Regions from separate parts of the Homo sapiens genome. Here all the other regions are linked to region 1. Evidence: fine-mapped expression QTL. A gene starts in region 1. Each other region holds a variant in brackets. All regions are shown on one strand. Distances are between the middles of the regions. Region 1 holds the start of RAB29 (RAB29, member RAS oncogene family). Region 2 has its middle 21 kb from the start of ELK4. Region 3 has its middle 26 kb from the start of SLC26A9-AS1. Region 4 has its middle 17 kb from the start of SLC45A3. Region 5 has its middle 4.1 kb from the start of SLC41A1.

The links. PIP is the estimated chance that this variant, and not a neighbour inherited with it, causes the effect.
Region 2: its variant is the best candidate, but not a certain one, in a credible set for the expression of RAB29 in fibroblasts (GTEx, PIP 0.52).
Region 3: its variant is the best candidate, but not a certain one, in a credible set for the expression of RAB29 in putamen (GTEx, PIP 0.84).
Region 4: its variant is the best candidate, but not a certain one, in a credible set for the expression of RAB29 in whole blood (INTERVAL, PIP 0.82).
Region 5: its variant is the best candidate, but not a certain one, in a credible set for the expression of RAB29 in visceral fat (GTEx, PIP 0.76).

What each region holds. Positions count from the first base shown.
Region 1 is chr1:205,772,453-205,778,409 of GRCh38, reverse strand. It overlaps RAB29 (RAB29, member RAS oncogene family), which reads left to right and starts at 2,928. Exons shown (of 6, transcript NM_003929.3): 1 at 2,928-3,137; 2 at 3,324-3,577; 3 at 5,843-5,914. The coding sequence starts at 3,454. RefSeq lists an enhancer at 4,014-4,063.
Region 2 is chr1:205,649,917-205,655,873 of GRCh38, reverse strand. No RefSeq gene overlaps it. Among named protein-coding and RNA genes, the nearest start is that of ELK4, 21 kb to the right of the region's middle. The variant G/A (reference allele first, on the strand shown) is at 2,727.
Region 3 is chr1:205,905,495-205,911,451 of GRCh38, reverse strand. No RefSeq gene overlaps it. Among named protein-coding and RNA genes, the nearest start is that of SLC26A9-AS1, 26 kb to the left of the region's middle. The variant C/T (reference allele first, on the strand shown) is at 3,204.
Region 4 is chr1:205,694,173-205,700,129 of GRCh38, reverse strand. No RefSeq gene overlaps it. Among named protein-coding and RNA genes, the nearest start is that of SLC45A3, 17 kb to the right of the region's middle. The variant G/A (reference allele first, on the strand shown) is at 2,986.
Region 5 is chr1:205,814,292-205,820,248 of GRCh38, reverse strand. No RefSeq gene overlaps it. Among named protein-coding and RNA genes, the nearest start is that of SLC41A1, 4.1 kb to the right of the region's middle. The variant T/A (reference allele first, on the strand shown) is at 3,424.

The DNA.
Region 1 (5,957 bases):
GAGCCCAGGAAGCAGAGGATGCACTGAGCCAAGATCATGCCAATGCACTCCAGCCTGGACAACAGAGTGAGACTCCATCTCAATAAACAAACAAACAAATAAATAGGTATAAAGGGACATGTGTAAAGGAAATAATAATGCTCAGAATCTGAAGTCTACATGGAGGCAAGAAATGATGAGACCAGTGACAGAAATAGGGAAGCTGAGAAAAGGAGCTATTTTTATGGCAATGTAGTAAGAGGAAGGATGTGGCAGGACATCCAAGTGGGGGCACCTTTTGGGCAGCTGAATATCACTGATCAGAGATAAAGAACAAATAAAGTGTTAATGGTAGCTATGATAGCGGTTATCACCAGTGCCGTGAGTATTCCTTCATTAAGGGCTGACACAGAGAACAATTATACTTATTGGGTATATTTATCAATCTTGGCTGGCAATAATGCCTGGATGCAATCACTTTATGACGCAGTTACACATGCTTTCTGATCTCAGTATTTACCATAATAAATCTGCTCCTATAATTGAGGCATACCGCCCTCAAAAACTTATTTGTAAACAGGATTGGACCCAGTTAGAAAAAATGAACGTACTTGTTTAGGAAGATTGCATTGCAGAACAGGCAGAGATGCTGCACAATGATTCCTATGGAATCATTATTAATTGGTCCCCTAAGGGGATGTTTAGCTTGAATTGCACCTCTCAGTCTGCGTGCCACGGCCACACTATGTTCAGCTGGTCTGAACAAAATGGTCAGATGGTAGATATAATAAGAAGTACAGCAAGAGTTCCTATTATCTGGAACCATGGCAGTATAGTGACACCTCAACCTCAAATGATATGGCCCGCTCTAGGAGCTTAACATAAGGATTTAAAATTAAAAGAAGAAATATTTAAAGCATCCGAGGCACACTTGACCTTAATGCCAGGAACTGGAGTGCTTAAAGGAGCCGAAAATGGATAAAAACACTTGGAAGCTCTGTGATTTCAATGATGATTGTGCTTTTAATCTGTGTTGTTTGTCTTTGTATAGTCTGCAGATGTGTATCCTGACTCCTGCGAGAAGTAGCTCACCGTGACAAAGCTGCCTTTGCATTTATCAATTTGCAAATCAGAGAAGAGGGACATGTTGAGAGCAGGCCCCCCAAAATCTGGCCATAAACTGGCCCCAAAACTGGCCATAAACAAAATCTCTGCAGCACTGTAACATGTTCATAATGGCCCTAACGTCCACGCTGGAAGGTTGTAAGTTTACAGGAACGAGGGCAAGGAACACCTGGCCCGCCCAGGGTGGAAAACCGCTTAAAGGCATTCTTAAGCCACAAACAATAGCATGAGTGATCTGTGCCTTAAGGACATGCTCCTGCTGCAGTTAACTAGCCCAACCTATTCCTTTAATTCGGCCCATCCCTTCGTTTCCCATAAGGGATACTTTTAGTTAATTTAATATCTATAGAAACAATGCTAATGACTGGTTTGCTGTTAATAAATACGTGGGTAAATCTCTGTTCGGGGCTCTCAGCTCTAAAAGCTCTAAAGGAAATCAGACCCCTGATTTCCCACTTCACACCTCTATATTTCTGTGTGTGTGTCTTTAATTCCTCTAGCGCCACTGGGTTAGGGTCTCCCCAACAGAGCTGGTCTTGACAGAATATCACTGATCAGAGATAAAGAACAAATAAAGTGAAGATAGATCTTTGACACCAAGGACAATTCACTAAAGAGTTTATCGAATGATTGACTCAGAGACCAAGAATCAGGCCTTAGGAAATACTTAGCGGGAAATGGGATGGAGAGAAACCTGAAAGAAAAAGATAATCATCAGAGAAGTACGGGGATGACAAAGAAAGAACAGCGTCATAGAAGGCATAAGGGAAACAAATGTCAAGGAGTGGTCAACTATGTCAAAACGAATAAGAACAGAGAAAACTGGATCCTTAAAGATGAGTAGCTTGAACTAACCTCCTGTACCTGGGTAACGAACATTCTGGGCAAAATATATTGTGAACCATGCTGATGTTCTTTCGCCACAAAACATAAGTGATAGCCTCTCTATCAAGAGACCTAGATTTCCTAGTGTCTGGTCCTGGGCTGTTTTCCCATGGCCCCGCTGGTTCTCTTCCTCTATTCCTAGAAAAGTATAGAAAATGGAGCTCTCTTTGCTTGCCATTGAGCTCATGTCCTGCCAACTTCTACCCAAGTGACAGGTAGGTCAGTAAAGTTACAGGCTGAGAAATTAAAATTATTTGCCAAACACTAGTTTTATGATTATCTATTAACAACAGCCACAACAAATCAAGAAGGAGTCCCAGTGTATTTCAATTAGCTTCTAGCTCAAGTGATACATGAGTAGTATGGCTAGAATAGGCATTGTAGAAGTATGAATGGAGAACTGTCTCTTGTTTTCTGTCCATCTTTATTGTTATTGCTGGATATTAAATGCTGTAATTTTTGGCATAGGTTTTTTTCCAAAGACTGGTCTCTTGGGTCAAGTTTTCCTGAACTTGCCTGGTATTGGGCAAGTTCACACAGAAAATATGAGTCATTTCACAAAGTCCTGGGCTTGTCTATCTACTTGAAGGAATAGGAAATGGACTTCACTTGGAGCATGATGGATGAGGCTTGGGCTTTTACTAATGAAATAAGTTTCAATCTTAACTCAGTTAAACCTTTAAAGACAGGAGAAAACTATCTGGGGATGGATTCAGGCCAGTGAGATCACGTTGCACAAATCTCCCCTTAAGGGATCTTTACTGACCTAGAATTGTTTCAAAATAAGATTCCAAACTGTCGAGGGAGTTTGAAGCCTTGAAACTTGGTGTAGGTTTGCTTAAAACAAAATAACGAATATACTACATTTCCCAGGAGGCTTCGCGGTGAGCCTCCGCACTCGGCTGGTTCTCTTTACCGCGAGGAAAGCTGGGAAATGTAGTGCCACAGGCAACCCTGCACGTGACGCTTGCGGAGGAAGGGGAGAGAGAGGCGCGCGGGAGGGCGTCTAGGGAATCGAGGTGCCGGCTGCTCCTTCCTCACAATTTGGTTTGTGCTGCAAGGGGAGGGTCCCCATCATCTGGCCCCAGTGGTGTAAGGAGCTGACTGGGATTCAGTCACTGACTTGGAGCCGCTCGGGGGAAGTCCCGGTGGGTGAGGTTCCGCGGCGCCTGGTCCAGTTTCTCGGCAGTCAGGCCAGGAGGGGGTGGGGAAGGTGCGAACAGCCGGGGGCTCGGAGCTCGCGCCCTGCGCCCCACCCAGGTTGCGGCCGCCCGGGGAGGAAGCGCGTATAGGTTGAGTGCAAAGTTTCCTTTTTTGCTTTCTCGTCAGAGCAGCCCAGACAGGCGGTGGGTGGGAATGCCTCACTTCAGTTTGAAGAGGGTCCGGATCCAAAGGGGTTAAAACGAGCGACCCCCGATCCCCGACCACACTTCCCGCCTCCCTAAAACGCACACCCCGCTAGCCATGGGCAGCCGCGACCACCTGTTCAAAGTGCTGGTGGTGGGGGACGCCGCAGTGGGCAAGACGTCGCTGGTGCAGCGATATTCCCAGGACAGCTTCAGCAAACACTACAAGTCCACGGTGGGAGGTGAGACGTCTCGGGGGTGGGGAGGGGGAGGGGGAGGAGGAGGCCCCGACCGCGGACTCGAGCTGGGGACCCAAGTGGGGTGGGGATTTGCTGTCGGTTGTTGGGTCCTTCTTCGGGTCAGGAAGTACTGTCTGGGAACCTAGATGGTGTAATTGCCGGGTGTTTGGTTTACACGCCTCTCTTGAGTTTCCCGTTAGATTTTCCCAAACTGAGCCCACTGCCAGGAGAAAGGTAAGAGCAAAGGCGTGAAGATGAGAAATAGGGAAGGGAGGATGAGGATGAGCAATTGCTGTTTATTGCAGGCGTACTGTGAACTTAAGTCTCCAGCCTTTCAGCTGTCCGGCAAATCTCTCCAATCAGCAGAAGCAGCTGAGATCCTCTGTGGGGCCTCCTGGTTAGGTGCCGGCTGGGGCTGTAGTCCTGCCCCTCTGTTGAGGGAGGAACCGCAAGGTGTTTAACCTGGCTTCAGTGGGAGAACGCAGGAAGCGGAACTGGTCTGAAGGACTGTAGCTTTGTTGTGGGGCTGTGGGTGGGATGGAAGACACAAAATCCCCGAACGAGCCCCTTGGCTACGCAGTCAGATGCCCATGAGGGCTGATGAGCTGTGTTTTTGTCCGTTGATTGCTTAAATAAAGGTAACCAAGGAATTCTTCCAAGAATGTGAAATATACCACTTCTCTGACCTATCTTCCCACCACTTTTTTCCTCAAACTGGAGAAGGTAGGGAGGAAGGGGACACCGAGTTCATTCATTTCTTTCCCGGGTGTGGCCTTTGGACTCAACTATTTTTTCAGAGGCAGAAATGCCTTATTGTTAATTAGAAGGTATTTAGCTAGGAAGAGCTGGTGATGGGGGAGAGTAACTTAAAATTTTATTTCTCTCTGTTAAAAGAACTTGTTTCAAGGGGGGAAAACTCGTACCAATGGAAAAATTGAAAATGTGTGCTCCTGTTCATATGGAAGTTTAAAAAGAAATTAACAAACATTTACATTGCAATTAAAACATTCTCCTTAAGAACCCCCAGTAGGGCCCAGTACCGTGGTTCATACTTGCAATCCCAGCACTTTAGGAGGCTGAGGCGGGAGGATTGCTTGAGCCCAGGAGTTCGAGACCAGCCATGGGAAACATGGCAAGACCCCCACCTCTACAAAAATTAAAGAAGAAAGTAGCCGTGGTCCCAGCTACTCGGGAAACTGAGACGAGAGGATTGCTTGAACTGGGGAGGTCGAGGCTTCAGTGAGCCCCGTTCGCACCACTCACTGCACTGTAGCCTGGGCAACAGAGTGAGACCCTGTCTCAAAAACAAAGGAACAAAAAATTTAAGTCTGGCAAAATTAAAGGTTCAAAGTTTCAGACACTCTATCCTGACCGCTCTGCCCTCCCACTCCTAAATAATATAAGGGTCCCTATTTCACGGATTTGGGTTAAAAGTGGCCTGCTATTAATAGTTAATTTTTAACAATTGCTGTAGTTTTCCTTTAGCAAAGAATATAATTGGCTAATTTTTTTTTCAGTGTTTAGTCTAAATTTCCCTTAGCTTTGATTCCTGTCACAGATGTGAAAGATAATATTTCCAAACCTCAGAAATTACTCTGTTTCTCTCCTTAGCCAAAAGGCTTTCCCCATGGAATACTTACTCAGCCTTAAGGAGTCTCAGCACCTGCAGACTTGGTGGTAGATTCCAGCAGGACTCTTCAGCAACATCCACACAGTGTCTTCTTCTTGGGACTCCTCTGGGACCTTTTCCATTTATTCCATTCTTGCCCAAGATAATACCTGCAACCTTATGGTGGATGTAGAGTTCCCCAGGGTGTGTTCTTTTCATAATACAATTTGATTAGAAACCAACAGTGAAATTGAATGTGGAAGATACGAAAGCAACCACACTTGTCTCATTTCCCCCTTCTCCCCCATCACCCCTTCCCTGAGAAAACCCCCTAAATCTCCCAGAAACTATTTAACCTGAGAATGAGAATTGTTTTCATAGTTACTCCCACCCCCAGTCTTGGAGACAAACAGTAGCAAATAAATGAGCTTGACAGTAGAGTAAAAGCTGGAAACCCCTTTGGAGAGTGAGTATGAATCATCCATCTCACACTAAATACACGCATGTGGACTCATCTCAGTGAATTGAGGGCTTAAAGTTAAACATATGGGATTGGAGTTGTGTGTCCATAGGGTTTCACTGCCTATTTGATTTGAGTTTATCCCTATTAATTTTTTACAGTGAAATTTTATTAAAGTATAATGTACATATATTTTCAGTGGATTTTGCTCTGAAGGTTCTCCAGTGGTCTGACTACGAGATAGTGCGGCTTCAGCTGTGGGATATTGCAGGTAAAGTGGGAGGGCTAGATAGGAACAAGGGAAGAAATTTTGA
Region 2 (5,957 bases), 120 kb after region 1:
TCATAAGCGGAGCTGTGGAGATGGCATCATCTCATGTGGCACATCATGCCTCACTGTTCCACTTTCAGTGGGTTCAGGTGATGTCAGACTGACCCATCCATTATACGGTTTGTGGGTTTTTTTGGAGACGGGGTCTCACTCTGTCACCCCGGCTGAGTGCAGTGGTGCAATCATAGTTCACTACAGCCTCCACCTCCTGAGCTCAAACAATACTCTTGCCTCAGCCTCCCAAGTAGCTAGGACTACGGTGTGTACCACCACACCAGCTAGTTTTTATCTTTGTAGAGATGTTGCCCATGTTGGCCATTATAAAGTGTCTCATTAACCCTTCTCCTAAACCATTGATGATCATTGCCTAGATTCTATTGCATTAGATATGCAAATTTATGATTTTCTAGTTCTATCACTCCTTAATTACTTATTCGGTATGAGTCTTCCATAAAGAAAATGTTTTCCTCATTCATTATTTGATTATGCTAAAATATGGTTTGTATGGGAAAACTATGATAAATGCTTGATACTATCCCATCACTTACCAATTTTTGGAGTAATCAGATGATGCTCTAACAGCTACCAAAGGTGATCAGTGAGGTTATTGTTTTAAATTAATTATCATTACAAACTTGTGGATTTCATGCATTTGTGTTTCAATCCATTGCAGTTGGTATTGTTGAGGCTCAAGCTGTCCATCTGGGACCTCCTTCCGGATGTTTCCTGTGTTCTTTTGACCACTCCAGTAGCCTTTGATGTTTCCTTGATTTTAGGCACAAGATAGCTCAAGTTCATCTTGTCCATTTCCTGCCCCAGACATGGACTTGGCCATTTCTCAATCTCTGGTGCATGTCAGGGACCACAATCTGAGTACAGGGTTGCTACTAGGTTGGCCTTTTTTTTTTTTTTTTTTTTTTTAGGTCTTTTCAGTGGGCATAGCTAGGAGATGTTTATCTTTCAGAAACAACAAAAAGTAAGTTAATACTGATGTTCCAAGTCAAATTAAATATTGCAGGGTGGCTGGGCACGGTGGCTCATGCCTGTGATCCCAGCACTTTGGGAGGCTGAGGCGAGTGGATCACCTGAGGTCAGGAGTTTGAGACCAGCCTGAGCAACATGGAGAAACCCCATCTCTACTAAAAGTACAAAAATTACCTGGACGTGGTGGCGCATGCCTGTAATCCCAGCTACTTGGGAGGCTGAGGCAGGAGAATCACTTGAACCCGGAAGGTGGAGGTTGCAGTGAGCTGAGATCGTGTCACTGGACTCCAGCCTGGGTGACAAGAGCAAAACTCCATCTCAAAAATATATATATTTTGCAGGGGCCGGGCGCTGTGGCTCACGCCTGTAATCCCAGCACTTTGGGAGGCCAAGGCAGGCAGATCACGAGATCAAGACCATCCTGGCCAACATGGAGAAACCCCGTCTCTACTAAAAATACAAAAATTAGCTGGGCGTGGTGGCGTGCACTTGTAGTCCCAGCTACTCGGGGGCCTGAGGCAGGAGAATCGCTTGAACCCGGGAGGCGGAGGTTGCAGTGAGCTGAAATTTTGGGTTCCTAGTCATATTAACATAATTACTTATATGCTTTATCATTCAGTCTATATAAGTTTCCAAAGTGACAATAGTAATATATTGCTGACAATAACATTACTAAATGAAATTTAAGATTTCTTTGTGGTTGTTTTAGTCCTTGGGATATATCCAGTTAGGGACATATATTCAAAATGCTGTTTTAAACTTTTCTTTTTTTGAGATGGAGTCTCACTCTGTTGCCCAGGCTGCTGGAGTGCAGTGGCACCATCTCAGCTCACTGCAACCTCCACCTCCCGGGTTCAAGTGATTCTCCCACCTCAGCCTCCTGAGTAGCTGGGACTACAGGCACATGCCACCATGCCTGGCTAATTTTTTTTTTTTTTTTTTTTTTGTAGTTTTAGTAGAGACAGGGTTTTGCCATGTTGGCCAGGCTGGTCTCAAACTCCCCACCTCAAGTGATCTGCCTGCCTCGGCCTCCCAAAGTGCTGGGATTACAGGCGTGAGCCATCGCGCCCAGCCTGTTTTAAACTTTTTGTCATGGAGATGTTAAATACCTACAAAAGCAGAGAGAAGAGTATAAAGAATGCCAATGTACTCATCATTCATCTTCAGCAATTACCAGCTCATGGTCAACATTGTTTCATCAATACTTCTGTACATTCCTCTTACATAACATTGAAGCAAATTTCAGATAGCATATTTCATTAGGAAATATTTCAGAATATATCTCTAAAAGATAAGGACTTTTTTTTTCTTTTTTTTTTTTTTTTGAGACATAGTTTCACTCTTGTCGCCCAGGCTGGAGTGCAATGGCACGATCTCTGCTCACTGCAACCTCTGCCTCCTGGGTTCAAGTGATTCTCTTGTCTCAGCCTCCCAAGTAGCTGGGATTACAGGCATGAGCCACCATGCCTGGCTAATTTTTGTATTTTTTGTAGAGATGGGGTTTCACCATGTTGGCCAGGCTGGTCTGGAATCCCTAACCTCGGGTGATCTGCCCATCTCGGCCTCCCAAAGTGCTGGGGGATTACATGCGTGAGCCACCAAGCCCGGCCAGGACTTTTTTTTTTTAAGTAGTCACGCTACCATGATGATACCTAAGAATAGTAATTCTTTAAGATAAGCAAATATCCAGTCACCGTTTACATTTCCCGGCCTCATAAATGTTTGGGGGTATAGTTTTTTTCAAATTGGAATCT[G/A]AATAAATTCCATACATTGCCACGGGCTGATATGTCTCTTAAATCCTCTTGTAATCTTGTTATTAAATCCTCTTGTAATCTTTTTTTGTTTGTTTTGAGAAGGAGTCTCACTCTGTCACCCAGGCTGGAGTGCAGTGACTCGATCTCGGTCACTGCAACCTCCGTCTCCTGGGTTCAAGCGATTCTCCTGCTTCAGCCTTCCAAATAGCTGGGATTACAGGTGCCTGCCAGCACGCCCGGCTAATTTTTTTGTATTTTTAGTAGAGACGGGGTTTCACCACGTTGTGGACAGGCTGGTCTCGAACTCCTGGCCTCATATGATCCACCTGCCTTGGCCTCCCAAATTGCTGGGATTACAGGCTTCAGCCACCGTGCCCATTTCTCTTGTAATCTTTTAATCCAAAGGTATGTCCTCGATTATTTTTTCTTTACTTGTTAAACGGAGTTTCTGTTAGACCATCTGTATTCCCATGGTAAATTTTTTTTACTGCCCCTGTATTTTCTGTAAACTGGTAATTAAAGTCAGAGACAACAGATTTGGTTTGTTTGTTTTTGCAAGAATACTTAATAGATTTGTACTTCCATATAAGGGAGCATATACTGTTGGGCTTTTTTTTTTCTTTTATTGGGACAGGGTCTCACTCTGTCACCCAGGCTGGAGTGGTGGCTCACTGCAGCCACGACCTCCTGGGGCCAGGTGATCCTCCCATCTCAGCCTTCTGAGCAGGTGGGACTGCAGGTGTGCACCACCACTCTTGGCTAATTTTTTTTTTAGACGAAGTTTCGCTCTTGTCACCCAGGCTGGAGTGCCATGGCGTGATCTAGGCTCACTGCAACCTCCGCCTCCCAGGTTCAAACGCTCGCCACCATGCCCAGCTAATTTTTGTATTTTTGATAGAGATGGGGTTTCACCATGTTGGTGAGGCTGATCTCGAACTCCTGACCTCAGGTGGTCTGCCTACCTCGGCCTCCCAGAGTGCTGGGATTACAGGCCTGAGCCACCGCACCCGGCCTGCTTGGCTAATTTTTGTATTTTTTTGTAGAGACGGGGTCTCACAAAGTAGCCCAGGCCAGTGGTTGTCTTCTGTTTTCGGTGTTTGCAGTCATTGATAACTTTACTTAGATCCATTATTTCACAGGGGTTGTAAAATGATATTATATCATGTATATCTATCTATCATAGGATATTCTATCATTTCTATCTATCATAGGACATTCTATCATTTCTCTCTGTCATATAATATTGTATCATTTCTATCATAGGATATCCTATCATTTCTATCTATCATGGGATATTCTATCATTTCTATCTATCATAGGATATTCTATCATTTCTTTTTTTTTTTTTTTTTTTTTTGAGACGGAGTCTGGCTCTGTCGCTCAGGCTGGAGTGCAGTGGCATGATCTCGGCTCACTGCAAGCCCCGCCTCCCGGGTTCACGCCATTCTCCTGCCTCAGCCTCCCGAGTAGCTGGGACTACAGGTGGCCGCCACCACGCCCGGCTAATTTTTTGTACTTTTAGTAGAGACGGGGTTTCATCGTGTTAGCCAGGATGGTCTCGATCTCCTGACCTCGTGATCCGCCCGCCTCGGCCTCCCAAAGTGCTGGGATTACAGGCGTGAGCCACCGCGCCCGGCCTTCTATCATTTCTATCATAGGATATTCTATCATTTCTATCTGTCTATCATGGGATATTCTATCATTTCTATCTATCTATCTATCATAGGATAGTCTATCATTTCTATCTATCATCGGATATTCTATCATTTCTGTCTATCATCGGATATTCTATCATTTCTATCTATCATAGGATATTCTATCATTTCTATCTATCATAGGATATTCTATCATTTCTATCTATCTACCATAGGATATTCTATCATTTCTAACTACCATAGAATATTCTATCATTTCCATCTATCTATCATGGGATATTCTATCATTTCTATCTATCATATGATATTGTATCATTTCTATCTATCATAGGATAGTCTATCCTTTCTATCTATCTATCATAGGATATTCTATCGTTTCTTCAACAAGTGCATACCTCCTTCCTTGTACCCACCAGTTTTCTTTTTCTTTCTTTCTTTTTTTTTTTTTTTTGAGATGGAGTCTTGCTCTGTCGCCCAGGCTGGAGTGCAGTGGTGCTATCTCAGTTGACTGCAACCTCCGCCTCCCAGGTTCAAGCAATTGTACTGCCTCAGCATCCGAAGTAGCTGGGATTACAGGCACCTACCACTACACCCAGCCAATTTTTGCATTTTTAGTAGAGACGAGGTTTCACCATGTCGGCCAAGCTGGTCTCGAACACCTCACCTGAGGTGACCCACATGCTTTGGCCTCCCAAAATGCTGGGATTGCAGGCATGAGCCACTGCGCCCAGCCACGCACCAGTTTTCAAAATAATGAATTGATTCCCTAGCATCCCCTGATGATGGCAGAGGTTTCTTCCTTAGTTTCATGATGTTTTCATGGATTTAAACATATTTGTTGTGTTTAAATCCTTTGCAGTTGTTATCCTTATTCATGTTCAAATTGTCCCCATCTTTGGCCAGTGGGAGCCTCTTCAAGTTGATTTCTGAGTCCTTTGACACAATCCTAAATGGTCTTTGTTTTGTTGTGTTTTGAAGTCAGTCTTGCTCTGTTGCCCAGACTGGAGTGCAGTGGTGCGTTCATGGCTCACTGCAGTCTTCACTAAGTGATCTTTCAAAGCTTCTTTGCTTTCTGGCATGACTGGATGTGCAGGATTAGCTTGTATTTTTACTGCCACAGACCTGGAATGAGCTATTTCTTCTAAGGGTCTTTGGTTGCTTCTTATGGAAATGAGATTTAGAGACCATAAATACCATGGCCATCAGAAGTGTTTGTTGTTACTGAGTTGGTCATTGGTTTTAGGCTTTTTCCGTTGACAAAGCTAGGAAATTTGTGATTTTGTGTGTAAGGATCATATCCTGTGACACAGGCTCAGGAGGCCCTGAGAACATGTGCCCAGGAAATGTTTTTTGTTTTCTTTTTTCTTTCTTTTTTTTTTTTTTAAATAGAGGTGGGGTCTTTCACTATATTGCCCAGGCTGGTCTCCAAATCCTGGGCTTAAGTGATCCTCCTACTTCGGCCTCCCAAAGTGCTGGGATTATAGGCTTCAGCCACAGTGCAAGGCTGAAAAATGTAACTACATTGTGAGTTTATATTGATATTTCCAATGCAAGTTCAGAACTGTGTATCTTGTAT
Region 3 (5,957 bases), 130 kb before region 1:
AGCCATCTCACCATTCTAGACTGGAATGGGGTAATTTTAAGACTGTGAATCCCTGAACATGCCCAAGAAGAGGTAAGCTAACCACCTGCCAGGGATGTTGTCAGAGGAGCTCCTGCTCTAGATGGTAGATCAAACAGGATGACACTAAGACCTTCTGTCTCTAAATTGCATAACATGAAAGCAGATTCTTTAGAATTATGCGAGTTACTTCTTACTTCCAGAGCTGGAAGTAAACACTTTTCCTTCAACAAAGATTTTTGTTTAAATAAGAGGTTTTTTTAAACAAACTTTTTACTTGGAAATAATTTCAAACGAATAAAAAGTTGCAAAACTAAAAGTATCACAGGAGGCTGGATGCAGTGACTCACACCTGTAATACCAGCACTTTGGGAGACCAAGGCAGGAAGATCATTTGAGGCCAGGAGTTTGAGACTAGCCTGAGCAACAAAAGGAGATCCCCACCCTTACCCCCCATTTCTACAAAGACAATTTAAAATTTTTAAAAATTAGCTGTGCACGATGGCACATGCCTATAGTCCTAGCTACCAGGAAGGCTGAGACAAGAGGATCACTTGAGTCCAGGGATTTGAGATTACAATGAGCTATGATCGCATCGCTGCACTCCAGCCTGGGCAACAGAGCAAGACCCTGTTTTCAAAAAGAAAAAAAAAATCACATAATAAACACTGTATGCTCTTTAATCTGGTTCACTTATGGTTAACATTTTACCCCATTTGCTTTATCATTTACTCTTTCATTGTCTCTCTTTTCTTTTTCTTTTTTTAGACAGTCTCACTCTTGTCGCCCAGGCTGGAGTGCAATGGTGTGACCTCAGCTCACTGCAACCTCTGCCTCCTGGGTTCAAGCGATTCTCCCTGCCTCAGCCTCCTGAATAGCTGGGATTACAGGCACCTGCCACCAGGCCTGGCTAATTTTTTTGTATTTTTAGTAGAGACAGGGCTTCACCATGTTGGCCAGGCTGGTCTCGAACTCCTGACCTCTGGTGATCTGCCCGCCTCGGCCTCCTAAAGTGCTGGGATTACAGGCATGAGCCACCACCACTGGCTTATGTCTCTTTTCTTTCTCTCTGTGGACATGCATAACTTTTTTCTGAGGCATTTGAGGATGAAGTCCTTTAACTTTAAATACTTCAGTGTGTATTTCCTGAGAGATAGTGTCTTACATAATCACAGTACAGTTATCAACTTAATGCATTTACATTGATCCAATACTTTTATCTAATCTACCATTCATATACCAATTTTGTCAGTTTATCTAATGAAGCATTTTTTCCTCTCCAGCACAGGATTTAATCTAAAGTCAGGTATTGAATTTATTTTCTTTTTTTCATTTATTTATTGAGACGGGGTCTCACTCCATCGCCCAGGCTGGAGCGCAGTGGAGCTATCACAGCTCAATGTAGCCTCAACCTCTGGGGCCAGGTGATCCTCCCACCTCACCCTCCCAGGTAGCTTGGACCATAGGTGCACACCACTACTCCTGGCTAATTTTTGGTATTTTTTGTAGAGATAGGATTTCTCCATGTTCCCCAAGCTGGTCTCAAACTCCTCAGCTCAAGCAATCCTCTTGCCTCGGCCTCCCAAAGTGCTGGGATTACAGGCATGAGCCACCATGCCCGGCCAGGTACTGAATTTAGTTGCATGTGTTTTAGTGTCCTGTTATCTGGAACGTGTCTACAACTCGTCTTTGTCTTTTACAGCATTGACATTTTTCTAAGATTGTGGTTCACCCACCCTTTCTTTGTATTCCTCATTTTGCATTTGTCTGATATTTCCTTATGATTATACTGAGGTTTTGCATTTTCTCCCAGAATACTCCATAGGAAATGCTCTGTCTTTTTCTGCCTAACACATCTGGAAGCACATAATGGCCACCAGTCTCTCATAGGTGAAATTAATTTTGATTACTCAGTTGGGGGTATTGCCTGATTTCTCCACTATATGATTACTGGGGTTGTTTTTTTTTTCTCCCTTGCAACTTATAGTTTGTGAGGACACACTTTAAGACCATGCAAATATTCTGCTGCTCATTAAAATTTCCCCTAGGTTAAGTATCCATTGACAATTCTTGTCTGATCCTATCAATACTACGATGATTGCAAAATGATGATTCTCCAATCCCAGCACACCCTCTACATTTACTAGTCCTAATAGGCATCCTACTATAACTAAGAACACTCGCTTCTCACCTTTTTCTACAATTTCCTCAAAATTGTATATGTATGTTTGTGTGCCTGTTTATGTGCACATGTATATGTATGAATATGTATATATGTGTGTATGTACATTTGTATGTACGGGTATGTAGCCCTGGGCCACATAACAATGTTTCAGTCAATGACAATCGCATATACAATGGGATCCCATAAGGTTATAGTTCTGTATTTTTATTGTACTTTTTGCTGTGTTTAGATACACAAATACTTAGCATTGTATTATAGTATGCAGTACAGTAACATGCTGTACAGGCTTCTAGCCTTGGAGCAATAGGCTATACCATGTAGTCAAGGTGTATAGTAGGCTATACCATGTAGTCAAGGTGTATAGTAGGCTATACCATCTAGGTTTGTGTAAGTACACTCTATGAGGTTCACACAATGACAAAATCACCTAAAGAGACTTTTCTCAGAATGTGTCTCCATTGTTAAGCAATGCATGAAGAGGGCCCTAACTAGACATCGAATCTGCCAGCAACTTGATCCTGGACTTCCCAGCCTCCAGAACAATGGTGTGTACATGGATATATTTCCTAGTGCTGACTGCTGAAAGTTCCAAGAAGTAATGACACCCAGTAAAAAGGAACAAATCTAGTACCCAGATTTCAGCTTCTAACACCATTCCTTTCTAAAAGGAGACAGAACTTCTTAAAAGAAATGGTTGATTCCAAGGCGGGGATAGGATTGGATACAAGATAAGTCTGGAACATATTTTTATACCAGAAAGCAAGGAATTGTTCCAAAAAATTGATGGGAGTATGTTACAAGGTCACAGGAACCAGATCAAAGTGGTCTCTACGTGCAATTTAAGCACCAAAATAATTAAATACAAGGATGAATTTTAAACCATTAAAAACAAGAATTGAGCTCATACCAACGATGATGAGAGAGAGAGAGAATTAGAAAGGCTTTCTAGTTGCTAGAGACTGTGTGTTTTGCCCCAAAATTCATATGTTGAAATCCTAAC[C/T]CCCAAGGTGATGGTATTAAGGGCTTTTGGGAAGTGATTAGGTCATGAGGGTAGAGTCCTCATGAATGGGATTAGTGCCCTTATAAAAGAGACCCAGAGATATCTCACCCTCTGCCGTGTGAGGTTACAGTGAAATGACAGCTATCTATGGAAGAGGAAGAGGACTCTCACCAACATCAAATCTGCCAGCACCTTGATCTTGGAATTCCCAACATCCTTGGTTTCCCTTGATGTTGTCATCCCAACATCTGAGTTCTGGAAAGGTGTAGTGGCTACTGGCCCCCAGAGGAGGGCACACTGCAGAAGTGGCATGACAATGTGAGGAGTTCCACTGACCAGCTCCCCTGTGAAACTGGTGAAAATTACTAAAATAAAATAAAATAAAATAAAGCCTCGAGAAATAGTCCCAAGGGCAAACAGCAAATGAAGACACATCTATTCAAGAAAACCTATGAAAATTTAATAAGAAAGCAAAAGCTATAAGCCTAAAACATCTTTATGTTAGCCCCAAAGTACATCTATAATAGCCCCCAAGTACATCTTTATGTTCTAGGTGAGGATGGACCCTACAAGATATAGAGGAAGGTCAGTCCTTACTGCGGATAACTGAAACTGTGGGTTTCACTTTCCACAGTTTCAGTTACCCGCAGTCAACCCTGGTCTGAAAAATATTAAATGGAAAATTTCAGAAATACACAATTCATAAGTTTTAAATTGCATGCTGTTTTGGGTAGCATGATGAAATCTTGCACCATCCTGGTGTATGTTCTGCCTGGAATGTGAATCACCCCTTTGTCCAGCATATCCATGCTTATACACTATGTGCTCATTAGTCACTGAGTAGCATCTCAGTTATCAAATTAACTGTCACGGTATCACAGTGCTTGTGTTCAAGTAACCCCTATTTTACTTAGTAATAGCTCCAAAATAGGCCAGGCATAGTGGCTCATGCCTGTAATCCCAGCACTTTGGGAGGCTGAGGCAGGCGGATCATAAGGTCAAGAGATCAAGACCATCCTGGCCAACATGGTGAAACCTGGTCTCTACTAAAAATACGAAAATTAGCTGGGCGTGGTGGTGCACGGCTGTAGTCCCAGCTACTCAGGAGGCTGAGGCAGGAGAATTGCTTGAACTCAGGAGGCGGAGGTTGCGGTGAGCCCAGATCGTGCCACTGCACTCTAGCCTGGTGACAGAAGGAGACTACATCTCAAACAATAATAATAATAATAACAACAACCCCAAAGTACAAGCATTGTGATGCTGGTATATTGTTATAATTGGTCTATTTTATTATTAGTCGTTAATATATTACTATGCCTAATTTGTAAATTAAACTTTATCATAGGTATGTATAATATATACAGCAAAAAGGCCGGGCACGGTGGCTCACGCCTGTAATCCCAGCACCTTGGGAGGCTGAGGCGGGCGGATCACGAGATCCGGAGATCGAGACCATGCTGGCTAACACGGTGAAAACCCATCTCTACTAAAAATACAAAAAAAAAAAATTAGCCAGGCATGGTGGCAGGCGCCTGTAGTCCCAGCTACTCGGGAGGCTGAGGCAGGAGAATGACGTGAACCTGGGAGATGGAGCTTGCAGTGAGCCGAGATCACACCAGTGCACTCCAGCCTGGGCGACAGAGCGAGACTCCGTCTCAAAAAAATATGTATGTGTATATATATACATATATATACATATACATATATATATATGTATATATACATATATATATATACACATATATATATATATATACATATATATATATATACACACACACACATATATGCAGCAAAAAAATACTATAAACAAGGTTTTGTACTATACAAGGTTTCAGGCATCTATTGGGGGTAGATGGAATATGTTACCCACAGATAAGTGGGGGACCACTGTAGGTTTTTTTAATTTAAGAATATGGTATTTCTTCCCATTTGTTTAAGTCTTCTTTTGATAATTTCATAAGTGTTTCCATATACCTCTTACACACTTCTTTTTTTTGGAGACAGAATCTCGCTCTGTCGCCCAGGCTGGGGTGCAGTGGCGTGATCTCGGCTCACTGCAATCTCCATATCCCAGGTTCAAGCGATTCTCCTCTCTCAGCCTTCCGGAGTAGCTGGGACTACAGGCATGCACCACCATACCCAGCTAATTTTTGTATTTTTAGTAGAGACTGGGGTTTCATTATGTTGGGCAAGCTGGTCTCGAACTCCTGACCTCAAGTGATCTGTCCGCCTCAGCCTCCCAAAGTGTTGGGATTACAGGCGTGAGCCACCATGCCCAGCCAGCACTTACACATGTCTTAAGTTTAACCCTAAATGTTTTTTACTGCCTTTATAAATGGAATTTCTTTTATTGTATTTTCTAACTGGTTGTTGTTGTTTACATACATAAAGGCTATCAATTCTGTATATTAATTGTGCATCCAGATTACTTACTGAATTCTCTTACAATGTTAGTAGTTTTGCTTTTGATTGCTTCAGCTTTTTCAGCTATACATTCTGTCTGCAAATAATTATAACTGTACCTCCTTTCCAAATTTTATACCTATAATTTTTTCTCTTATCTAGTTGCCTTGACTAGTATCTGCAAAACAATGTTAAATAATAGTGAAGACAGTAGACATTCTTTATTATTATTATTACTATACATTAAGTTCTGGGGTACATGTGCACAACGTGCAGGGTTGTTACATAGGTATACATGTGCCATGTTGGTTGGCTGCCCCCATCAATTCGTCATTTATATTAGGTAGT
Region 4 (5,957 bases), 78 kb after region 1:
GTCTTTTTTTGAATTAAACTTTTTATTAAGATCATTGTAGATTCACATGCAGTTATAAGAAACAATACAGAGAGATCCCTTGTATACTTGCCCAGTTTCCCCCATTGATGACATTTTGCAAAACTACAGTAAAATATCACAACCAGGATATTGACGCTGATACAATCCAACAACCTTATTCAGATTTCCTGTTTTATTTGTACCTGTATGTGTGTGTGTGTTGAGTTTTATACAATTTCATCACCCACATGTGAGTATCCACCACCTCAATCCAGATTCTGAACAGTTATAACATGAAGAGGTCCCTTATGTTGCCGTCTTAAAACCACACTTCCTCCCTTCCCATTCCCCTTTCTGTACCTGATTCCTGGCAACTACTATTCTGCCCTCCAATTCTAAATTTTCTTTCAAAAACCTTATATAAAGGGAATCATATGGCATGTGACTTTTAGGGATTGGCTTTTCTCTTGGCATAATTCCCTACAGATTCATCCAAGTCATGGCATAAATCAATAGTTCATTCCTGGCTGGGCACGGTGGTTCACACATGTAATCCCAGCCCTTTTGGAGGCCAGGTGGGCAAATTGCTTGAGCTCAGGGGTTCAAGACCAGGCTGGGCAACATGGCAAAACCTCATCTCTACAAAATATACAAAAATTAGCTGGGCGTGGTGGTGTGTACCTGTAGTCCCAGCCACTCGGGAGGCTGAGGCAGGATAATTGCTTAAAACCAGAAGGCAGAGGTTGCAGTGAGCCGAGATCATGCCACTGCACTCCAGCCTAGGCAACAGAGCAAGACTCTGTCCAAAAAAAAAAAAAAAAAAAAAAAAAAAAGATATAGTTCATTCCTTTTTATTGCTGAGTAGTAATCTGTGGTATATTAGTACCAGAGTTTGTTTGAACATTCACCTGTCAAAGGACATTTGGGTTGTTTTCCATTTGGAGCTATACAAATAAGGCTGCTATGGACATTTATGTGACAGTTCATTTTTATATGAACATCAAGTTTTTACATGCTTGTCTATCCAGTGCCAGTATCGTGCCGGGCACACATCAGATCCTCAGTCAGTGTTCCTTGGAAATGACTCAGGACAATCTGCTCTAGCACTGTAGTCCAGGTGGGAGTAGGGAAGAAAGCAAGAATGACGGTGGGGGGTGGTCATTTCCACGAACAATGAGCCAAAAATCAAGGCTCAGTCTGATGAAAGGATTGATCAAAGGACGCATGGTCATGATTAGTATTAAGCAGTTGGGACTACAGGAGGCCAAAATTACATATAGTGAACAAATGATAATATATGGGTGAGAGTGACAGTGGACATGGCATGGGACAGTGTGTGAAATGATATACATGCAGGTTACAGGAATCCTGAAGCAGCTCTAACAGTGATGACAGCAGGGGCTTTGGGAACACCTTATTCAAACCCCGCCTCCACCACTTTTTAGCTGTGTGTTCTGCGCAAATTACTTAATCTCTCTGAGACTACATTTTCTAACCTGTAAAATGAAGATATAATAGTATCTTTCTCATAAGAGTCCTGAGCAATGAGTAAAATAGGATACATAAAGTTCTTGACTCACAGTAGTCCCTGAATGAATATTAGTTTCCTTTCTGCCTCCCCACCCTAATGGCAAGTAAAGAAGTAATAGATATTAGGGGTGCAGTGACTCATGTCTGCAGTCCCAGCAATTTAGGAGGCTGAGGCAGGAGGATCGCTTGAGCCTGGGAGTTCAAGGCTGCAGTGAGTTATGATTGTGCCACAGCACTCCAGCCTGGGTGACAGAGCAAGACCCTGTCTCAAAAAAAAAAAAAAAAAAAAAGTCGGGCTTGGTAGCTCACACCTGTAATCCTAGCACTTTGGGAGGCTGAGGCAGGCGGATCACCTGAGGTTAGTAGTTTGAGACCAGCCTGGCCAATGTGGTGAAACCCTGTCTCTACTAAAAATACAAAAATTAGCCAGGCATGGTGGCTTGCGCCTGTAGTCCCAGCTACTAGGGAGGCTGAGGCAGGAGAATCGCTTGAACCTGGGGGGCGGAGGTTGCAGTGAGCCAAGATTGTGCCACTGCACTCCTGCCTGGCGACAGAGCAAGACTCCATCTCAAAAAAAAGAAAAAAAAGAAAAAGATTTTGGGGCTGGCTAGTCAGGAAAGACCTCTGAAAAGGAGTTTGGTTTAAAGAAAGCTTGTAGGGGGCATACGAGTAAGACAGAGGACAGACTGAACTCAGGCAGGGAGACTGGACTCAGAAGTGGACTGAATTAGATGCAGGCCCCCTCTTTGGAGCATAGGGATTGCCTCAAAGCAGAGCAGGAATTCACAAATAGGGTTTGGCCCAAGGGGTCACTAGTTCAGTTACTGCTTGGCTGGGTACTCCACACTCTGTTTTTTCTGCTTTCAAGGTGAGCTTCTCCTTACTTTATTAAAGGCCTGACACAGACAGTGTGCATCCCTCTTTGGAGCAGCTACCAGGGTGTGTTGGACAAGATGCTCGCCTGCCCCTCTCCTCCAGCCCAGCAAATGCAAACCATCCACCAAACCACCCCCTCTTCAGATTCCAAACCCCAAGCAGCCAAAGTCCTTGGTCCCTCCAACGCCTTCCAGAAAGTGCCTGGCCCTGCACAGCCCTCCTCCCAGGGCTACCTTTGATCTCACGAAGACACTTGACCTTTTGATCCCATCATGGGACTGTTCCCCAGCCCTAGGCCACTGGAATGGGGGGAAATAGAACCCTCCTTTCCTTGTTCCCACTCTTGTTTCTTTTGAACATGGGTTACCTCCCTTCGCGTCTTTTGGAACAGAAGGGGATCATAAGCTCTTGAGTCTCTGTTTTCTGCTGTCATCTACTCTTCCTGCCTCTGGCACCTCCCAGCTCCTGACTTCCTCCTGCTTCCCCCTGGAGCCAGAGATGTGGCTGGGAAGAGCCCCTGGCCTTTGAAGCCAGTGGTGGTGGTGACCAGGGGCAACAGGCCACTGTGCTCCTGGATGC[G/A]TGGTCTGCCAGTTCTCTCTCCCATCGCCCTTTGGGCCTCCGGTCTTGCCTCCTCCAGAGTGGGCATGGGGTAGGGGAGATAGAAGGAGGAGGATAGAGACAGAGTTTGCTTTGGATGTGGCCAGTCTAAAAGAGCCCTTCCACCTCATTCAAGGCCCTCCCCACCACTCTAGTGGTCACAGCACATTTTCTGTTCTATTCCAAACTTCTTTGTGCCAATCATTACTTTTTTCACTGGTTTTATTGATCCCTCCTGAGGCAGGAGGATCACTTGAGCCTGGGAGTTCAAGGCTGCAGTGAGTTATGATTGTGCCACTGCACTCCAGCCTGGGTGACAGAGCAAGACCCTGTCTCAAAAAAAAAAAAAAAAAAGTCGGGCTTATAGGCTCTCGAGTCTCTGTTTCCTGCTCTCATCTACTCTTCCTGCCTCTGGCACCTCTCAGGTCCTAACTGGAGCCAAATTTATACCTCCCAAAATGACCTTTAAAAATGTACATTATGGGGCTGGGCATGGTGGCTCACGCCTGTAATCCTTGCACTTTGGGACGCCAAGGTGGGAGGATCCCCTGAGGTCAGGAGTTCGAGACCAGCCTGGCCAACAGGACAAAACCCTGTCTCTACTAACAATACAACAACAAAAAAAATTAGCTGGGTATGGTGGCGCATGCCTGTAATCCCAGCTGCTCAGGAGGCTGAGGCAGGATAATCTCTTGAACCCAAGAGGCAGAGGTTGCAGTGAGCCTAGATCATGCCACTGCGCTCCAGCATGGGCAACAAAGCGAGATTCCCTCTCAAAAAAAAAAAAAAAGTACATTATGGGTAGACCGGGCGTGGTGGCTCATGCCTGTAATCCCAGCACTTTGGGAGGCCGAGGCAGGCAGGTCACAAGTTCAGAAGTTTGAGACCAGCCTGGCCAGCATGGTGAAACCCTGTCTCTACTAAAAATACAAAAGATTAGCCGGGCATGTTGGCGTGTGCCTGTAGTCCCAGCTACTCGGGAGGTTGAGGAGAATTGCTTGAATCTGGGAGGCGGAGGTTGCAGTGAGCCAAGATCACGCCACTGCACTCCAGCAGGGGCAACAGAGAGAGACTCTGTCTAAAAAAATAAATAAATAAATAATAAAAATAAAAATGTACATTATGGCCAGGTGCAGTGGCTCCCACCTATAAGTCCCAGCACTTAGGGAGGCTAAGGCAGGAGATTCACTTGAGCCAGGGAGGTTGAGGCTACAGTGAGCCATGATGGCGCCACTGCACTCCAGCCTGGACAACAGAGGAAGCCACTGTCTCAAAAAAAATTTTTTTTAAGTCAATTACATCATGTTACTCCTCTGCTTGACTCCTTCTAATGTCTTCCTGTTGTGTGAGAATGAAATACATATGGTCTAGTTTCTGCCCACTTATCTCACCCCATTTACGCCTCTCGTACTCTGGCTTTCTTTTTTTTTTTTTTGAGACGCAGTCTCACTCTGTCGCCCAGGCTGGAGTGCAGTGGTGCAATCTCAGCTCACTGCAACCTCTGCCTCCGGGATTCAAGCAACTCTTCTGCCTCAGCTTCCCGAGTAGCTGGGATTACAGGCGCACGCCACCATGCCCAGCTATTTTTTTTTTTTTTTTTTTTTTGTATTTTAGTAGAGGCGGGGTTTCTCCATGTTGGTCAGGCTGGCCTTGAACTCCTGACCTCGTGATCTGCCCGCCTCAGCCTCCCAAAGTGCTGGGATTACAGGCGTGAGCCACTGCACCCAGCCAAATATTTCACTGGGTGATAAATGAATCCCTCTGATATTGCAGTGAGATTGGAGAAGGCCCATTTGTGGGCAGAACGCTGGCCTCGGAGACTAGAAAACCAAGTATAGGAACAAAATAAACCAGACAAGTTTAGGTTTGCATCCTAGGTTTGCCATATATTAGCTGTGTAATCCCAGACAAGTTACTTTACTTCTTTGAATTTAATTTTCCCCATCTGTAAAACAGAAATGCTATCGCTTAGCTTCTAAGATTGTGGTGAGGAGGAGAGAATTACATGAAAGTGCAAAATAGATATGGATTAAAAATAATCCACGTGGTTATCCAGAGATAGTAAAACAGAGTCTGGGTGCCGTTACACAATAATCTTGCCTCCATTCCTTTAATCAACTGTATCATGCTCTTCATTTAAGGAGGCTGCAATACGAGGCAACCCTGATGGAGGGATAAACAGAATGCCACCATCCACAGACTAAATCCAGGCCACCGCCAGGTTTTGTTTTGTTTTGTTTTCTGTTTTTGTTTTTTGTTTGGTTGGTTGGTTTTTTTAGGCAGAGTCTTGCTGGAGTGCAGTGGCGTGATCTTGGCTCACTGTGACCTCTGCCTCCTGGGTTCTAGCGATTCTCCTGCCTCAGCCTCCTGAGTAGCTGGTACTACAGGCGCATGCCACCACGCCCAGCTAATTTTTGTATTTTTATTAGAGATGAGGTTTCACCATGTTGGCCAGGATGGTCTCGATCTCCTGACCTCATGATCCACCCGCCTCGGTCTCCCAAAGTGCTGGGATCATAGGCGTGAGCCACCACGCCCAGCCACACTGCTGGGTTTTGTATGGTCCCTGAGCGATGAATGGTTTTACATTTTTAAGTGGTTGAAAAAAATCAAAAGAAGAAGAATATTTCATGACACATGAAAATTGTATGAATTTAAATTTCAGTGTGCATAAATAAAGTTTCATTAGAACACAGCAACACCCATTCATTTCTGTATTATCTGTGGCTGCTCTGTGCTACAAGCACAGAGGTGAGTAGTTGCGATGGAGACCATATAGCCCCTGCAATATTTCCCATCTGACTCTTTACGGATTCTAATAAGGAGCTTGTCTAAGAGACTGCATGGTGGCAAGGAGAGGACAGGCCAACCTCAGGGGACTGTTTCTCTTTCAGGGCTCTCTGCTGCATGCTTCAGAAGGTTCTGTTTTACCTCTGGCTGCAGAGGCACTGCCA
Region 5 (5,957 bases), 42 kb before region 1:
ATGGCAAATGGTGATTGATGGGTGGTGGGCGAGGAGGCGGGGAAGTAGAGGAAGGAGTCAAGAATGACTCCCAGATGGCTGACAAACAAATGGGCGAGGGAATCCTCTTTTCTGGGATGGAGAAGACAGAATAAGAAATAGACATCTGGGAGAGAACTAGCGCATTTTGGATATCACAAGTTGGAAGTGCTGAGACATCCAAGTTCAGAGCTCAGAAGAGAAGTCTAAGACAAAGATATTTGGGCATCATGAACAGAGCATCATAAATGGACACTATGCAAGTGAATGAGACTCCATATGTAACGGTCTGACAGAGAAAGAAGGCCCAGATGTGTAAATTACAAGGTGTCAGCAAACATCACAGAAATTTTAAAATATAAGGTATTTCAAAATTAATATAAATTTTAAAATATAAAGTCTCTGTGTTCAAGGACTTTGTGATCAAGCATAAAACAATACGTTCATGTCAAAGAAGCCTTCAGCTCTGTAACATATCACCAAAGCCTACCATTTCATCTTTCATTTAACACGTCCCTACGTGCATCCAACCACATGTTGAAGAACCTGCTGTTCCTTGAAAATGCCAAATTCTCCCTTGCCTTCCTGCCATTTCACTCTGTTCTCTCTAACTGGAATAATTCTTTCCCATTTCCAATTCTTTTAGGCATATACTTAGGAATGAAATTGCTCAGTGATATGGTAATTCTGTGTTTAACCTTCTGAAGAAACATCAAACTGTTTCCTATAGCAGCTGCACCACATTATATTCTCACCAGCAAATGGACAAGGTTCCAATTTCTCCACACTCTCACCAACACTTGTCATTTTCTGTTATTTTCTCTCTTTTTTTTTTATGGCCAACCTACTGGATATGAAGTGGTATCCCATTGTGGTTTTGATTTGCAATTCTCTAACAACTAACCTAAATAACTTTTAAATCTATTTACCATTCTCCAACCCACTGACCTCATTTTCCACCTGATATATTGCAACAGCCTACCTCCTAGGGTAATTATTAGGATTAAATGAGTTTGCATATAAACCCACACAGTCAGATTCAATCAAAGCACCTCCATGTCTTTGAAGACTTCCTGAGCCTTGCCTTCCTGTGACAAAATATACCTTTGTCACAGTGTTTCCTCCTGTGACAAAGGTATATTTTTGTTAAAGCTCCCCAGGAGATTCTAATATGCAGCCAGGACTGAGAACCACCAGACTGGGGCAGTTTCCCAACCCAGTAGGATCATGGGAGTCACCTGGGGCACTTATTTAAAAGGGTAGGTTTCCTGGCCCAGCACCAGACGTTTGGAAACAGAATTTCCAGGAAAGAGGCCTGGAAATCTATATTTTAAAAGAAGTTCCCAACAGGTGATTCCTATGACCAGGCCAGTTTAGGAAACCCTGGTCTAGAGGATAATCCTAGAGCAGTAGGCAGTAAACACAGAGGGCAGTTTGAAACTAGGTAATCTGGTTTGCAAGATACAGTCTTTTTGCATCCTGGCTCTTGCAAGATAAAGTTTGCTCATCTTTGGCTTGTGACCCACTGTGGGGTTGCTGCCCCTATTAGCTCCTACCTGCATCTATGTAAGAGACTGTCCATCATTAACCCTTTCCAGGTAGGCATGCCCTCACACTCTGGGAAGTCTAAAATTTCACGTGAGGCCCAGAAAAAGCCTGAGCTGCCCGTTCCAAGTGCCTAATCCCTGTTTATTGGCTGTTTCTCTTTGGTGAGATCTTAACAGTCCTACTGCGTGCAGGGAATGTTCCAAATGCTATATTATCCTAATCCTCTCATCATCTGTGAAGGCTAATGCAACTCCATCTTGGATGCTAATCCACCATGTTGACTTCTGATTAACTCCAGTTCTGGAAATGCCTCTAAGATTTCTATTTTATCTACTATTCCTTGGTAAGACCATATACTTATCATAAATCCTGCTCTTAGGTTAAAACAACTGACCATAAATCCTGCCCTTAGGGAACTTCACATAGCATTCTCGCCTTTCCCTACAATTGTCCTACACATTCCTTCCCTGTAAGGTATAGGTATTCCTTCCTTATAAGGTATTCAAGCCCTGGTCTTACTGCTGTCCGGGATATAGACAGGGCTTCTGTTCGCAAGTCCCTATTAAATGCTTCTTTCAAGAAACCAGATTTGTCAGCCTCTTTGGCCTCTGAGCTTTCTCAGACTTTGGGGGTAGGTTTGCATAGAACTGCTCACCATGGAACATATATTGCAGAAAGGGAATTATGTCTCCATTTGATAGACATGGCCCAAGGTCATGTGCCTAATGAATTGCTGAGCCATTCATGGATTCAAATCCATGTGATTACAATGCTGTGGCATATTCCACTCTGCAGCACTGCCTCTCAAAGATTACTTTTCTATCCCCAGTTATAGTTCACCAGACCATTTTGTTTGCTGTCAAGGCTTCCCAGCTATACTCAGTAAATTCAGAGCTGCAGCTCCAAATACCTGGAACCATCCTGCCTAAGGGAATCCCAGGGTGGGTATCCAGGGGGCTTTGGGGAAAGGGAGCTCAGTTATAGAGAAGCAAAGGGAATGATGACAGTGCTGAGCACAGATGGCCACACTTCCCTATCCCACCCCCATCACTACATCCTCCTAAAACTGAATGAAGCCGGAAGGGGATGTCACCTCAGCTCTGGGCAGCAGGAAAGAAGTTGACCTCTGGGAGGGAGGGAGCAGCGGAGGGGTCACAGCAAGGGGAAAAATGGGAGGGGGCACCCTCCCCCACAGAACAAAAGATAGAAAAGTTTCCAGCCACGTCAGGCTAGTCTTACAACTAGCCATGCTGGTTAGGGGGTCCAGGATCTATGGGGCTCTGGAATTTTATGATGTCTCAAGATGAGTATTCAGGTAGTCTATGGAGAAGCCATTGGTAGACAGTACTTGGCCCAGAAGGAAGGCCATGGGGCTAAGAGAACCTCAGGATAGAGGCTAAATTAACCACATATTAGGACAAGTGCCAAGCAAGACTGAAGAATGCTGCCCCACAGAGGACCTTCCCACACAGGCTCCTCCACAGGCCCCTGCCTGTGGAGTGATCAACAATTCCTTTTGCCACAACACTCTTTCCCACCCCACACCCAACATATGCTCATATTCTAAATGAAAACACTGTGCTTGCTATACAAATGATGTTTCATGACAAGTCACCCAGCCTCTCTCCAACTAGATGGCGTCCCCAAGCTCAGTTTATATAAAAATTTGGGGTGCTACTACTAGCTTCTAGTTAAATGCCACATTATGTTCTGAAAGACATGAGGAGGGGATGCTGTGAGTTTGTTAGGGTGGTGCAAGGGGAAATTTCTGTCTCCCAGAGTAACAGGAATCAGTGAGACTCTTGACCAGAGCTGGTCAAGGATGCTGGAGAGAAACACAGCAAGAGAAAAACGCTG[T/A]AGAATGCAACAGGCCTATGAAAACAGTGCATGGAGAAGAGGCTGATTCGGTGGTCTTCCATATTCAGGATGGACATTACAGGCCATGAGGAAGTTAAAGCTGATTTTAAAAAAAGAGTTGCCCAATGCAGGTTAGGAATAAGACCCTCCAACCAAAGTTTCAGGGAACCTCCTTTGGAGAAAGAAATGTGTTTCTAGGTGTGGAAGAGCTCTCTTGGCTAACAAGCTCAAAGACTGGGCATGTCTTGAGGCAAGAGAGAGTCCACATGACCTTTGGAGGTTCTTGTCATACAAAGGTCCACAGTGATGCTCAGAGACCCTCACTATCTTTTTGATACCCCCAACTGCGTCTCTCCTTCTGAAGTATCTGGCTGGCCTGCTACTTGCTGGTAGTTCCTGTCTTTTCATCTGTGACCTCCGCTCCCTACATCTGTGCTCATCATTTCACAGACTGTAGCTATTTCTGCTCTTTCAGTAGAGAAGGGCCAGGATGTCTTCCTCTTCCTAAGGTCACAGCTGGCTAAGCCAGAGGAAATCTGCTTCCCCCAGGTCCTCTTGGTGTTTGACTCTAGGGATCAGCACAATACAGAGCAAAGTACCTACATCAGCTTTATCCACCTCATCCATCATTCATTCAACATATTTATTAAGTACCTACTATGTGCCAGGAGCTGGGTTTACACTAGTGATCAAAATAGATATAGAGATTATATTCTTGTTCCAGTGGCCCTGACACTTCAGAAGACACCAAAACCAAGGGCTTTTGTATTTATTTACTCATAGAAATATTTGCAATACCTATAACCAACAAAGGACTCGTATCTGATATTCATAAAGAACTCCTACAAAGTGGTAAGACAGGGCTGGGCTCAGTGGTTCACACCTATAATCCCAGCACTTTGGGAGGCCAAGGCGGGCGGATCACTTGAGGTCAGGAGTTAGAGACCAGCCTGGCCAACATGGTGAAACGCTGTCTCTATCAAAAATACAAAAATTAGCCTGTCATGGTGGCATGTGCCTGTAGTCCCAGCTACTCAGGAGACTGAGGCAGGAGAATCACTTGAACCCAAGAGGTTCCAGCCTAGGCAACAGAGCAAGATACCATCTCAAAAAAAAAAAAAAAAAGTAGTAAGACAGAAGGAATAGAATAATAGAAAATGGACATGATACTTGAACAGATATCCAAGGGTCAAATAAATGCATGGAAAGGTGGTCAACTTCATTGGTTATCAGGATAAAGCAAATTTAAACTACAATACCACTATACACCCACCAGAATGGCTAAATTTTTTAATTTTTCTAGATTGACAATATCAAGTGTTAATGAGAATATAGAGCAACTGGAACACTAAGACGCTGCTGGCAGGAGTGTAAATTAATATGAGCACTTTGAAAAATTGTTTAGTCGCATTTGCTAAAGCTAAAAATATGCATATCCTTTTATGACCCAGTAATTCTATTCCTAGGTATATATCTAGTATAAATATGAACGTAAGTGTACCAAAGGACATGAACAAAAACGTTATCGCAGCCTTATTCATAATAACCCCAAAGTAGGAACAACCAAAATGTCCGTCAACAGAATAACAGATAAATTGTGGTATATTTATTTAATGGCATACCGTACGGCAATGAAAACAAATAAGCTACTGCTACCACAATGTTTTGGATGAGTTTCATAAACATAGTATTGAGTGAGAGAAGCCAGACACAAAATAATACCTACTGAATGGTTCCATGTATATAAAGTTCAGAAGTAAGCAAAACTAACCTGTAGTGTTAGATAAACGTTACTTTTGAGAAGGAGTGTGGCATAGTCACCAGGAGCGGATAGAAGGAGGGTATCTGGGATGCCAATAATGATCTCGTTCTAGATCTGGATGGTGGTCATATGGGGGTGTTCACTGTGTCATCATTTGTTGACCTGTACACTTAGGTTTCGTGTTCCTTTCCTAAATGCCTGGTATATTTCAATTAAAAAAATACACACAGGAGAGGGGAACAGTTTTCGAGTAAGTAAAAACACGGAAGGTAGAAAGGAAATAGGAGAGAGATCAAGATTTTATACACAGGTAGCTGAGCTGTGGCCAGATTAAATGGGGTAGTGGAGGGGAGGGAACTGTTGAATAGAACAGGGCAGAAGTTGCCTCCAGCCCAACCAAAGTTCCTCCAGATACATCAGCCTTAATTCCCCACCCAACCCCACACCCCGTATTCACAAACCTCATCTTTCTGGACAAGTCCCAGCATTTCCTAGACTAGCAGCTACTTCTCCTGGCAGAAAAACCCAGTATTTGAGGCCAAAACTGGGGTCTGAGACACTGATATTTTGCTCTAGTAGGTCCTGTGAGTCTGCAGGCCCTTGATGCAAATGCTCCAGAGCTGATCTGGAATCATCCTGGGGGTACTGGTTTGGGGTGGGTGAGGGGAACAGGGTTTGGTATGTGTATTTGTCATCCTTATCAAAAGGAATGACCTGCTCAGGTTGCTGTGTGTGCTCTTGTGAGCACGTGCCCAAAGCTTCATACACAGCA